2 linked regions of the Homo sapiens genome follow. The protein of the gene in region 2 interacts with the protein of the main gene of each other region in a biochemical or structural test. Each region holds a gene or a part of one and is shown on either strand. Other genes may lie near its edges.

What was found.
Region 1: the proteins of SOCS6 (region 2) and DAB1 form a complex in vitro, tested with the Homo sapiens proteins (one study listed by BioGRID).

What each region holds. Positions count from the first base shown.
Region 1 is NC_000001.11:56,997,344-57,001,060, forward strand, and holds part of DAB1 (disabled homolog 1), read right to left. Parts: intron 805-3,717; exon of another isoform or gene 786-804; 3' UTR 1-785. UniProt on the Homo sapiens protein: Signaling adapter of the reelin-mediated signaling pathway, which regulates the migration and differentiation of postmitotic neurons during brain development.
Region 2 is NC_000018.10:70,319,940-70,323,765, reverse strand, and holds part of SOCS6 (suppressor of cytokine signaling 6), read right to left. Parts: intron 2,164-3,826; exon of another isoform or gene 118-2,163; intron 1-117. UniProt on the Homo sapiens protein: SOCS family proteins form part of a classical negative feedback system that regulates cytokine signal transduction.

The sequences.
Region 1 (3,717 bases), on a different chromosome or scaffold from region 2:
ACTGAAAGCTGTCTTTCTTCACCAGGATGCAGAATAGCTAAAGGACTGTTTTGGCAACATTCGTGATCATAATGAATAATCAACCACTTATTTGTCTTGTAATTTCAAGTTAATTCATTTCACTGAGGCTTTTTTTCTCCCCAGTTAGATTTCTTCACCCATATCTAAAAAAAGTCAAAAGCAATACAAAAATTTGTACACCTATTAATTTTCAAACATGACAAAAAAAGGAAAGGGGGGAAAATGGCAGACCAGGCCCCATGGAGTGACAAAAAACACATCATCCTATGTGAAAAGGCATATGGATGACGATATTGTGGTCACAGAAGACCCTTTGCTTTTGCTTAAAGAAGTCAGTTCCAACCCTGTTGTAATCCTCTGATGCCTGTCACTCCAAATTTGGTGTCTCAACAGTGGTCAACAGGTAGAGAAATAAAAAGGGAATTAATAATTTTGCACACTGAGTCATCTTAAACCCAGCTATGAGGGCTCAAATATTTGTTGGGTAAGCATTTGCTTGATTTCTGATTTAATGTTGGGTGGATCTTTCTATACTTTTTTTGTGTGCTGCCATAGATATCTGCCATTGGTTGCCAAAAATGCTTAGTTCCCTCTTCTGAGCGAGTTCCATTGGGCAATCATGAATTTCTTGTGGGAAGAGGTGAAAGAATACAAGAGAGCCTGTCGTGATGCTGATGTCCATGCCAGTCTTGAGCACCCACCACGAGCTCGCATCGATGCTATTTCTTAGGTCTGTTGATCTGCGCGTACAGAGGCTCTGGCTCCTGTGGATAAAGGAACAAAGTGAGGCCTGCTCTTTACACTTGCATGGATTTTCTGAGACAGCTTTGGGAAAAGGGGTTTAGGATTAAAACAGAAAAGTGACAGTTTATGATGGATGACCTTAGGTTATTTTTGGAGTATTTGATCAGGGTGCATAACATTTTGGCAACATTTTTATTATCCAAAATAGCTATGCACTCAGTTCTGTCTTTCGTTTTCAAGTTGGAACTGATTGCCCTGTTAGGGAAGTAGCATGGTATAGTAGGGAGAGTTAGAAAAGCTGTGTCATGTGGACAAGATACTTATCCTGAGTCTTGGTTTCTCCAACCACAAAATGGGAATAGTACTGTTTATCCTACGGGGTTCTTGAGGGAATTAGAGATTACACATATAAAGTATCTAGCACAATGCTTGCTAGCAATACATCTTCAGAAATTGCTAACAATTACCATGAGACAAGTGGACATTTTTCCAACACAGTTTCATAAATGTCCACTTGAGAACCCTGAAATTCTATTTCAAATTGCTCTTCTACAAATAGTGATGCCTGGGTGCACTGTTGAGCCAGAGAAACAGCAAGTGTGTCTTTGTCTCTTAATCACAAACTTCTGGACTTGTTTCCATTCAGTCTGAGCCCTCCACTTTGGCCAGTCATTTGCCTGCACCCAGGGGGCTGTCCTGAAACACATACAGGGATTTTCAACCAGCATGTAATGCAGCAAACCTGCAATCCACACCTAGATAGGAAACAGCGTTCGGCCCTATTTAAACCCCGTCAGACTTCAGCTGATGTTGAGATGGCTCATTGTGCCTTGGCCAAGCAGATTTGATGGATACTGTGGTTTTAAGCATGCACAGGACCTTCTGTTAAAATTGACCTTTATGCTGTCACTCTTGGAGGTCTGTGCCAGAATTAAACGGGCACAATGAAATCCTAATTTTACCATATTTGATATATTAGCTTGTCCCCTGCCTTGTCATATAGGTTCTTATTATTTGCTTTTTTCTTGAAACTTCAAAATGAATTGGCATTCTGGGAGCCCCTACCATGTGTCTGGCACCATGCTAGGTATTTTCAAGTACATTGTCTTTTTATCTCATCACAACAGCCTTGTAAGGCAGATGCTTTATCTCTTTTGCAAGGGTGAAATTAAGCACAGAGAAGTTAGATAATTTGCCCATGGTCACACAGCTAGTAAGTCTAGAGACATGAGAACTGAAAACAGGGTCCAGGGGCCAGTGCTTTTTCTAATCTTTTACAACAGTGACCATGAGGAGGGAGAGACAGAGAGAGAGAGACCCCAATCTTTCCATCCATTGGTGCTTCAGAGTTTACAAAGCACCTCATGTCTTATTTATCTGCCTTATAGTCCTGAGGGTGGCTTTTATTTTTTGAGTCCTCCCTTTGCAGATAAAAACTGAAGTTCTGAAAGGTTGTGTGATCTCAAGGTCATTGTGCTGTCTCTTGTGTGTAGCATATCATATTGCTTGCTTTCTACTGTAAAGTGGAATGGCCTAGAAGATAAGGTTGTACTGGCCCATCATTGTACAGATGAGGAATCTGAAGTCCTGTGAAGACAGCTTTTGTTTCTTCAGAGTCACAGGGTTACTTAGTATCCATGCCAAGAGTAGACCCCAAGACTCCTGCCATCAGATCCAATTTCTGGTTCCTCTAGAACTTGTTATGTTTGTATTCTTCCAGTGGGAAGGAACTTCTTTCCTTGGAGGCACCCTATTATGCAGTGTAACAAAGTGCCAACTTGTCCCTCCATGCCTTCTGCCCGTAGACTTTCTACTGCCCTTGGAAATGTAAATAAGTACAATCCTTCGTCCAAATGTCTGATGACAGAAAAGTACGGAAGCCCATTCTTCCATGTCCTACTTCTAGGTTACCACTTGCCAGTTCCTTCTGCCTTTTTTTTTTTTTTTTTTTTTGAGATGGAGTCTCACTCTGTCGCCCAGGCTAGAGTGCAGTGGCGCGATGTCGGCTCACTGCAAGCTTGGCCTCCCAGGTTCACACCATTCTCCTGCCTCAGCCTCCCGTGTAGCTGGGACTACAGGTGCCCACCACCACGCCCGGCTAATTTTTTATATTTTTTAGTACAGACAGGGTTTCACTGTGTCAGCCAGGATGGTCTCAATTTCCTGACCTTGTGATCCGCCCACCTCGGCCTCCCAAAGTGCTGAGATTACAGGTGTGAGCCACCGCGCCAGGCCTCCTTCTGCCATTTTACAAATATGAACCTAGCACAGTAGGTCCTCAATGAGAGTCTGTTGAATTACTGAATGATTATAATGCTGTTTCTAGTTTCCTCACAGTTCTGATCCCTTTGTCCTAAATACACTCCAATTTGGCTTTATTCTCTCAAAATCAAATGTAGCAAAATCTATAGTAAGATTATGATTTATTAAACACCAAATCTATTCCTTTCCAGTCTCTTGAACTATTTCAAATACATGTTGTAAGGCTAAACATGTAACTTTATTGTGTGTTTGTGTTCTACAAGTGCAGTAGGTGGAGTCAAAAATAGTTAAGTACAACTACTGGGGAAAAATATTTCCTTTTGCCTGTGCTGGGCTTCAAGCACGCATATTAATGTTTCCTGGATAGATGTTCTCAGCTCATTCTTCTTTTTGGATGCCCCAAGAAGTCAGGCTGCCTTGATCTCACCCTACAATTTGCTCTATTCTAATTTTGGAAACTAATTTATCCAACTGAAAATGACACCTAAAAACAGAAGAAGACAGCAGGCTCAGACAGGGTAATTAATGCCACACTGCATTAAGTTTCTGCAGCTGAGATAAATATTCACACATCTCCTACTTGCCCGAATTTAGCTTCAAATACCCATCACAACAGCAGTAACGACTGCAGTCAACTCTCAATTATCCCCACTAATGAAGGGGAGCAGTGGTGTGGAAAACCCCCAGCAG
Region 2 (3,826 bases):
TATTTTAAATACTTAAGCTTGTGTCAAAATAAACAAAAAGAATTTCATTATCTGTAATAAACTATCTAGAGATGTTCCTCTATACTCGAGAATTCCTTGAGAACAAGAATCATTTACCTTCAAGTTCCCAATGCACAGAGGAGGAAGAAGCTCAATGCGCGCAGGTTGAAAAGCTTCATCTCTGAAGTACACCCATAAAAACCCATGTGTCTAGTTTTGATCTATTTGGAAGATTATGAAACATATTTCCAGAATTATTATTGCTTACTCTTCTTTTTTTGCAATTTCCCATGGCAAATTTTTACTTCTATATCCAGAAATATATTTTCTAAACTTTTTTTGTACATTGTTCTACACTGAAATGACAGGATTTCAATTCTGTAAAGACTTTCTGAAAGTCATTTCACAGCAAAAAATCTTGGTTCCATAAACCACGTTAAGTGATCCTAACACTACTTTACAAAGGCCCTGTGTTTAAACTGTGTAGAATGTTTTCTTTCCTCCAACGTCATGTTCTGCCTTCTCTGCATATGACTTGACAAGGTGATTCGCTTGACTTGAGCGAAATGCTAATAAAGCCCAGAACAAGATTCTGACCTCCCAAATCAGCAGTTTAGCGCCACTCAGTTTCTTGGCACAAGACTATGGCTCTAGCTTTGATCCCATTCATGAATTCACTCTGCCTTTACTAAGCCCCTACTCGGCCTCTGCTGAGTCAGCTTGGCTCAGCCCTGTGTGGCAATACACAGATTGATGAATAACTGATGGTCACCTAATCCAGTAGGAGAGACAGATGTATGAACAGATAAACTGTAGTATCAACCCTTCAGTAATATAATGGTACACAAGGTGGGAACTGACAGGAGAGAGAGAACCTGACAATTGTCCCCTTTTAGTTACAGATAGGATTCGGGTGGTGTGCAGATGGAATCATTCTTACTAAAAACCACTCAGATTAGACAACCTATCAGGGGATCAGTACTATCATGTCCCCAAAAGGAAGAAGCAATTTTTAAAAGTCTACTGTCATGTACTATGTTTCTGAATAAGTTGTAAAAAATAAAAAACTTAAAATATTTGAAGCACCAGTTACTTTTAAATAATAAATGAAGTTGTATATTAGGTGAACTCAGTGTCTTAGTAGCATGTCTTCTACCCAAGCATAATGAACTATTATAACTGCCAGAATCAGTAACTGATTAACCCTACTAAATGTGAGATTCAAATAGTTGTGCTTCCCACTATCACACCCATACCCCAAAACACGAGAGACTAGCAACCACGGTAAAAGTACTTGGCAATTACCTGCTTGAAAATTATTCCTTTTTCAACTACCAATCCATATTAGTAAGCTATTAATCAATACTAATATTAAAGAAACAAAATTCAATCCTAGACATTACAAACTATAAAAGTTCTATTAGGCCATATGGTCTTTTATCTCTTCCCTTCATATTCTAGGCAAAGATTACTCTAAAATTTTTAAGAGTATCTGTTTTTCTGTTTGCACATCCAAAAATATATGCCATCTTTTTATAGGATTACCATCTGTCTCGTGCCTAAGTAAATGTTCTGAATTAGTTTTACTGCTTTTCTAATTGTAAAATTTTAAGTTTATACATATACTTGAAAATGTATATAAAGTTTCAAGGGAAAAAGCTTTAGACATAAACTTTATCCATATGGGTAAAGGATAACTTCTTCAAATAATTTCAACCTTTTCTTAAATGACTTGAGGTAGTCATGTCTGTCAGTCATCATAACACATAATGAAAAAATTAAAAAGATCAAACAACTACTTAACCTTCAATAAACAAAACAGCTTTATTATCCCCATTTTATAAAATGAGGAAACTGGTTATCAGAGAGACTGGAATTTGCCCAACAAAGTTAAACAATTTGCTACTAGCAACAGCAGATCCAGAATCTGAACCTGGCTGTTTATTTGCAAAGCTCACATTCTTCCCCTATGCCAACCTGTCCTACCTGTCATTCTACTGCTTACATCAGTGGTTCTCAAACATTCTGGTCTCAGAACCCCTTTATTCTCTTAAAAATTATTGGAAGACAGGAAGAAGCATTGTTTATGTGGGTTGCATCTCTTGAAATGTACCCTACTAGAAAATAAAACCGAGAGGCGGGGCATGATGGCTCACTTCTGTAATCCCAGCACTTTGGGAGGCCGAGGCGGATCACCTGAGGTCAGGAGTTGGAGACCAGCCTGGCCAACGTGGTGAAACCCCATCTCTACTAAAAATACAAAAAAAAAAAAAAAAAAATAGCCAGGCATGGTGGCGTGTGCCTGTAATCCCAGCTACTCAGGAGGCTGAGGCAGAAGAATTGCTTGAGACTGGGAGGCAGAGGTTGCAGTGAGCCAAGATTGCGCCACTGCACTCCAGCCTGGGCAACAAGAGCGAAAACTCTGTCAAAAAAAAAAAAAAAAAAAAAAAAAACTGAGAAAATTTGTTATTTATTTATTTATTGAAGACACAGAATCAGAGTCTCGCTGTGTTGGCCAGGCTAGAGTGCAGTGGTATGATCTCGGCTCACTGCAGCCTCAACCTCCTGGGTTCAAGAGATCCTCCCACCTCAGCCTCCTGAGCAGTTGGTACTATAGGCACGCACCACCACGCCTGGCTAATTTTGTCTACTTTTTGTAGAGATGAGGTCTATGTTGCCCGGGCTGGTCTTGAACTCCTGGCCTCAAGCAATCCTCCTACCTCAGCTTCCCAAAGTGCTGGGATTACAGGTATGAGCCACTATGCCCAGCCTAATTTTATATTTATTTTAAAATGACAATATACTCATTACATGTTAACATAAATAACATTTTCATGAATGATAATAAAAATCAGTGAAAGTGGTACCACATGACATTACTGTAAATCTCTTCTGCCTGACTAAAGGAAGACAGCTAGACTCTCATATCTACTTCTGCACTGAATCTGTTACAGTACAGTAGCCCTCTCTTATCTGCAAGGGATACATCCCAGGATCCCCTGTGGATTCCTGAAACCACATATAGTACAGAACCCTATATCAAGTATACTTTGCTTTTTTCCTATACACACATACCTATGATAAAGTTTAATTTTTAAGTTAGGTACAGTAAGAGATTAATAACTATAACTAATAATAAAATTAAACAATTATAGCAAAATATTGTAATAAAAGCTATGAGAATGTGGACTCTCTCTCTCGCAAAATATCTTACTGTACTGCACTTAGCTGTCTTCAGATGACTATCGACTGTGGTAATTGAAACTGTGCATAGGGGACTACCTGTAAGAAGAAAATTCAGCCTCCTCCAGATACATAGTTGGAAAAAGGAACAATATATTTTATTTAATAACCTTTTCATATAACTATGGATATTTTTCTTTGATACTATATCAAAACTCAATGAATAATAGTTTCTTAATGATAAATTGCCCTGTAAAATCTAAAACCATAACACAAAATTTTTTTACTCTATAACATTCAAACCCATTGGTCATGCCTATAATCCCAGCACTCTGGGAAGCTGAGGTGGGTGGAACACTTGAGGCCAGGAGTTCGAGACCAGCCTGGCCAACATGGTGAAACCCCGTCTCTACTAAAAATATCAACATTAGCCAGGCATTATGGCTCACACCTATAATCCCAGCTACTCTGGAGGCTGAAGGAGAATCACTTGAGCCCAGGAAGCAGAGACTGCAGTGAGCTGAGATCACACCACTGCACTCCAGCCTGGGCAACAAGCAAGACTCCATCTCAAAAAAAAAAAGAAACTTTGAATTTTATCACTGGCAATAATACTGTCATTTGTTTTTAATGAAGTGACAGA